2 separate regions of the Homo sapiens genome follow, and region 2 is linked to region 1. The links come from fine-mapping of genetic effects on gene expression. A gene starts in region 1. The other region holds a variant in brackets. All regions are shown on one strand. Distances are from middle to middle.

Evidence for each region. PIP is the estimated chance that this variant, and not a neighbour inherited with it, causes the effect.
Region 2: its variant is fine-mapped to the expression of CERS1 in cerebellar hemisphere (GTEx, PIP 0.98).

Annotation. Positions count from the first base shown.
Region 1 is chr19:18,894,957-18,897,854 of GRCh38, reverse strand. It overlaps CERS1 (ceramide synthase 1), which reads left to right and starts at 1,697. Exons shown (of 8, transcript NM_021267.5): 1 at 1,697-2,031. The coding sequence starts at 1,783. GDF1 (growth differentiation factor 1) reads left to right here and starts at 1,697. Exons shown (of 8, transcript NM_001492.6): 1 at 1,697-2,031. RefSeq lists a silencer at 2,647-2,696.
Region 2 is chr19:18,804,671-18,807,568 of GRCh38, reverse strand. No RefSeq gene overlaps it. Among named protein-coding and RNA genes, the nearest start is that of COMP, 15 kb to the right of the region's middle. RefSeq lists a silencer at 1,095-1,389. The variant G/A (reference allele first, on the strand shown) is at 1,410.

The DNA of each region.
Region 1 (2,898 bases):
CTCCAGTCTGGGCAACGGAGCAAGACTCCAACTCAAAAAAAAAAATGAGCTGTATGTATGTAGGGGCAGATGGTGACAAGTGCCAAGCAGACATGAAGACATGAGGGGCGTGTGACTTCAGAGTCGGGGGCAGCCTGAGCAGGTGGCAGAAGAGCCATGCAGGTACCTAGGGGAACAGCATTTCAGGAGGGGGGAACAGCTAGTGCAAAGGCCCTGAGGCAGGACAGAGCTTGGCATGTTGGAAGAACAGCAGAAAAGCCCACAGGCGGAGGGAAACAGGGCGCTGTGAGGGCAGCCAGTGAGGACTTGGGCTTTCCCTGAGTGGAACAGGAGCCATAGAGGGCTGCAAGCAGACGAGGAACAGGCCAACAGCGTCGCAGCCACCTTCTCACCTCTGTGGGGTGAGGAGGAAGCCAGGATACCAGACGGAAGAGGGTAGTGGTGGTAGTGGTGGTGGTGGCGGGGAGCGGGGGGCAAGGCTGTGCAGATGCAGAGAAGTGGCCAGATGCAGGGCCACCTGGATGTGTTGTGGGGGACTCGGTGTGGGGCAAGGGGAAGGTGTGTTCACCTGTGCCCCTGAAGTTCAGGTGCAGGTGTTCGGGAGCCAGCGCGGCTGCTGCAGGACTCATCCCTGCATCCTGCACCTTGAAGGCCAGGTGTGGGGACATCCTGCGGGCTAGGATGGAGGGGGGGTGCAGCAGTGCCTGGGGAGATGGCGGTCCTAACAGAGGTGACCAGTGTCTTCCTCGATGGCCTTCAGTGGCTTTGGGCACAGGGCCTTGTCAATGAACAGTGCATTGGAAAGTCACTTATGGTGGTCCCAATGATGTCACAGTCGATCCAGATTGGGAGTCCCTCCCACGTTGGCACCCACTCCTGCAGCCTCTCTGCAACTCATGTATTAACCTGATGTTGGGGAGCCCCCCCCCCGGGTTCCCCAGGGTCACAGCAGCAAGTGACCCTCAGAGAACCCCCTAATCTCAGCAGCCCCCATCACACCTTTGTCCCAGTAGCCCGCTGTGCAGACCTGCAGAAGAAGATGCCTGGGAAGTGCCCAGGGTACCCGCGTCCAAGCTGGAACCCCATTGCCAAGCTCCTGGTGTAGGGCAGAGAGCTGCGTCTCCACTAGGTGCGCCTCCCAACGCCCTGGCGTGGGCCGTGTCCTTTTGAAGAATGAGAATGTTTCATTGAGCCTACGCCTCCTGAATGCGGGAGGGCCACGGGATGGTCCCAAGACTGTGCCAAGGCGTGCCAGGCCTCGGGTCCTTGAGAAGGAGCGAGGGCTCCAAGAACGGTGAGGTCGGAGCGGGCCGGGGCGATGGAGCGGGAGCGGCGTGGCGTGCTGGAGGGCCGGGAGAAGCGGGGGTCGCCAGTCGAGGGGACTGCCTGCTAGTGTCCCCCGTGCCCCCCGTCACGGGCACGGCGCGGTGGGGTGGGGGAGCGGGGGGCGCGCGGGGCAGGCATGGGGGCGCGACACGGCGGTGCGCGGGGTCTCTCGGGGTCCAGGTCCAACGGGCCCCCAGCTCCGGCCCCCGCGCCTGGGTTTCTCTGCTGGGAAACGGGCAGGGGCGCGGGCCCGCCTCCAGGGCGCCCCGCGTCCCCGCTGGCCGCCCCCCAGCCGCGCCCCCAGCGGGGCGGAGCTTGCGCCGGTCCCGCCCCTCCGCCCTCCGCTCTCCCGCCCGCGCGCCCCCGGCCCAGCTGCGGCGCGTGACGCGGGGCGCGCGGCTCCGTCGGCTACCGCGGGCGGGCGCAGGCGACGGGCACGGCGGGCGAGCGGGCGGTATGGCGGCGGCGGGGCCCGCGGCGGGGCCGACGGGGCCCGAGCCCATGCCGAGCTACGCGCAGCTAGTGCAGCGCGGCTGGGGCAGCGCGCTGGCGGCGGCGCGGGGCTGCACGGACTGCGGCTGGGGGCTGGCGCGTCGCGGCCTGGCTGAGCACGCGCACCTGGCGCCGCCCGAGCTGCTGCTGCTGGCGCTCGGCGCGCTGGGCTGGACCGCCCTGCGCTCCGCGGCCACTGCGCGCCTCTTTCGGGTCAGTGTGGCCGGGGGCCGGGACGAGGGGACCCCGGACTGGGGGAAGCCGGGACCGGGGACCTGGGGCCGCCGGCGCGTTCCTTTCTTCCAGCGCTGGCTGCTGCGGATGAAGGGGTCGCCGGAACGTGGGTGGGGGCCTCGGGCTGGAGAGGCCCAGGACGTTGGAGCCCCAGGATAAGGTCTCTCGGGCCGCCGCGCGCCCCCTTCAGACAGTGCTGCGTGGGGGAACCGGGTAGATGCGGGGGTGTGGCCGGGCTGGGGTGAGTCTGGGACATGGGGGGCCCGAGACAGGTGGGATGTTTGAGACGTGGGGGACCGAGGCACGGCCCTTTCCGGTCAGTTTGGGACCAGGGGGCCCCGCGCGGTGGATGGCTCCGGCCACCGCGCGCTCTTTCCGGCAGGGCCGAGCCAGACACTGAGAAGCCCAGGACCGGGAACGGGAGGGCTCGGCGCACCGCGGCCTGCGCCATGCGCCTCCCTGCCATGCGGGCTGCGCCCCGGCCCGGAGCGAGGTCCGCTGCCCGTTTTCTGCTGGGTCCGTGCGGCGGCGGGGCCGGCTTGCCCGCTGTAATCGGGAAGAGGCAGGAGCTGCCCGGTCGCTGCCTTGTGCCTATCTGGGGTCAGCGCCACCCTCCGACCAGGGATGGCAAGGGCCTGGGTGCTCTGGCCACGCCAGTGGTCGCTCCCTTGGAGGTGACATGGCCCGGGGCTTCAGGGTTGGACTGTGCTGCCTCCAAGAGGCGACAGCAGAATTCCCCAGTTTCTGCGGAGACCATCGCCCCTGCGAGAGAGTGACCATGATGGTGACATTGGCGCCTGACCCCACTCACTTCCCTGGGGAGGGGTCGCTGTGGCAGGAGCTGGT
Region 2 (2,898 bases), 90 kb after region 1:
TTTACACACGCTGGTCCCCCCACCCGAGCACCCTCTGTGGCCTCTTACCAGGCCAATTCTCATCTCTCCTTCAGTCGCAGCATAGCAGTCCCTCCTGCTGACCCTCCATAGCTGCCTGTGCGCCTCCAGCATGACTCAAACCACTCTGCCATTTATTTATTTTATTTATTATTGTTTTTTAATTTTATTTATTTATTTTTGAGACGGAGTCTCGCTCTGTCACCCAGGCTGTAGTGCAATGGTGCAATCTCAGCTCACTGCAACCTCCGCCTCCTGAGTTCAAGCAATTCTCCTACCTCAGCCTTCCAAGTAGCTGGGATTACAGGTGCCTGCTACCATATCCAGCTAATTTTTGTATTCTTAGTAGAAACGGGGTTTCTTTTCTTTTTTTCTTTTTTTTTTTAGACAGAGTCTCGCTCTGTCACCAGGCTGGAGTGCAGTGGCGCGATCTCGGCTCACTGCAACCTCCGCTTGCTGGGTTCAAGCAATTCTCATGCCTCATCCTCCTGATTAGCTGGGATTACAGGAACGTGCCACCACACCCAGCTAATTTTTGCATTTTTAGTAGAGACGGGGTTTCATCATGTTGGGCAGGATGGTCTCGATCTCCTGACCTCGTGATCCACCCACCTTTGTCTTCCCAAGTGCTGGGATTACAGGCATGAGCCACCGCGCCCAGCCGAAACGGGGTTTCACCATATTGGCCAGGCTGGTCACGAACTCCTGACCTTAGCCCCACCTCAGCCTCCCAAAGTGCTGGGATTACAAGCATGAGCTACCATGCCTGGCCTAATTTTTTTTTAAGAGATGAGGTCTCGGCCGGGTGCTGTGGCTCACGCCTGTAATCCCAGCACTTTGGGAGGCCAAGGCAGGCAGATCATGAAGTCAGGAGTTCGAGACCAGCCTGACTAACATGGTGAAACCCCGTCTCTACTAAAAATACAAAAGTTACCTGGGCGTCATGGTGCGCACCTGTAATCCCAGCTACTCAGGAGGCTGAGGCAGGAGAATCGATTGAACCCAGGCGGCAGAGGTTGCAATGAGCCAAGACCACGCCATTGCATTCCAGCCTGGGCAACAGAGGGAGACTTTGTCTCAAAAAAAAAAAAAAAAAAAAGAGGTGAGGTCTCATAATGTTATCCAGGCTGGCCTTGAACTCCTGGTCTCAAGTGATCCTCCTACCACGGCACTCCCAAAGTGCTGGGATTATAGGCATGAGTCACTGTGCCTGCCTATTATTTATTTATGTATTTATGTATTTATTTTGAAATGGAGTCTTGCTCTGTCGCCCAGGCTGGAGTGCAGTGGCACAATCTCTGCTTATTGCAAGCTCCGCCTCCCAGGTTCACGCCATTCTCCTGCCTCAGCCTCCTAAGTAGCTGGGACTACAGGCACCTGCCACCACGCCC[G/A]GCTAATTTTTTTGTATTTTTAGTAGAGACGGGGTTTCACCATGTTAGCCAGGAGGGTCTTGATCTCCTGACCTTGTGATCTGCCCACCTTGGCCTCCCAAAGTGCTGGGATTACAGGCGTGAGCCATCGCGCCCGGCCCTATTTTTTTTTTTTTTTTTTTTTTTTTTTTTTTTTTAGAGAAGGAGTCTTGCTCTGTCGCCCAGGCTGGAGTGCAGTGGTGCAATCTCAGCTCACTGCAATCTTTGCCTCCCAGGTTCAAGAAATTCTCCTGCCTCAGTCTCCCGAGTAGCTGGTACTACAGGCACACACCGCCACACCTGGCTAATTTCTTTTGTATTTTAGTAGAGATGGGGGTTTCACCATGTTGCCCAGGCTGGTCTTGAACTTCTGGTCTTAAGTGATCCTCCCACCATGGCCTCCCAAAATGCTGGGATTACAGATGTGTGCCACTGTGACCAGCCTCACTCTGCCATTTATTGAGGGCAAATTTCTGGGTTGTAGGCCAGGTGTGGTACCTCACACCTGTAATCCTAGCACTTAGAGAGGCCAAGGTGGTTGGATCACTTGAGCCCAGGAGTTTGAGACCAGCCTGGGCAACACAGCAAGACCTTGTCTCTACAAAATATAAAAATTAGCTGGACAGGGTGATATGTGCCTATGGTCCCAGCTACTTGAGAGGCTGAGGTGGAAAGATCACCCAAGCCCAGGGGGTCGAGGCTGCAGTGAGCCGGGATTGCACCACTGCACTTCAGCCTGGGCGACAGAGCGAGACTCCAGCTCATAAATAAATAAATAAATAAAGTTCTGGTTGTAAATCCTGGGGCACTGCTGGGGGAGGTCTGGGGGTCTCAGAGGGTATATGTTTGTGAAACTTTGTTGTGATAGCCAGCATCCTCCTTTGTCCCCAAGGAGACAATCTCACCTAGTATATGCCAGGTACAATGGCACAAACTGCGGATAAACCACGTTCCCAACCTCATGAAAATGTAGCCGAGAAGATCATTTCCAAGAGTGAGAAGTGTCTGAAAGAAATACCTGGGTGTAGGTATTTTTGCCCATGGGTTGGGAAAGGTCTCCTGAGGTGTTGACATTTAAGCCAAGTCCTGGGTCACAGAAGGGTATTTTATGTAAATATGAAGGAAGGGGCTGGGCGCAATGGCTCACACCCATAATCCCAGCACTTGGGAGGCAAAGGTGGGTGGATCACTTGAGGTCAGGAGTTCAAGACCAGCATGACCAGCATGGGGAAACCCCATCTCTGGCCTGGGAGCCCTACAGACCGGGGCCAACCTTGACTCGCCTCATGGGTCCCCACTGCCTGGGCCAGGGCTTGGCAGGCAGGTAGATGCTGCACTTGACCTTGAACGTGGATGCGCTTCTACAGCAATGCCCTGTGTTCCAGACGGGAAGCCGAGTCTCCCCTTGTGCCCGGAGAGATGTGGGGACCCAGCTTTTTGGCCTTCTGATCAGGCCCCTCTGCAGGTCTCA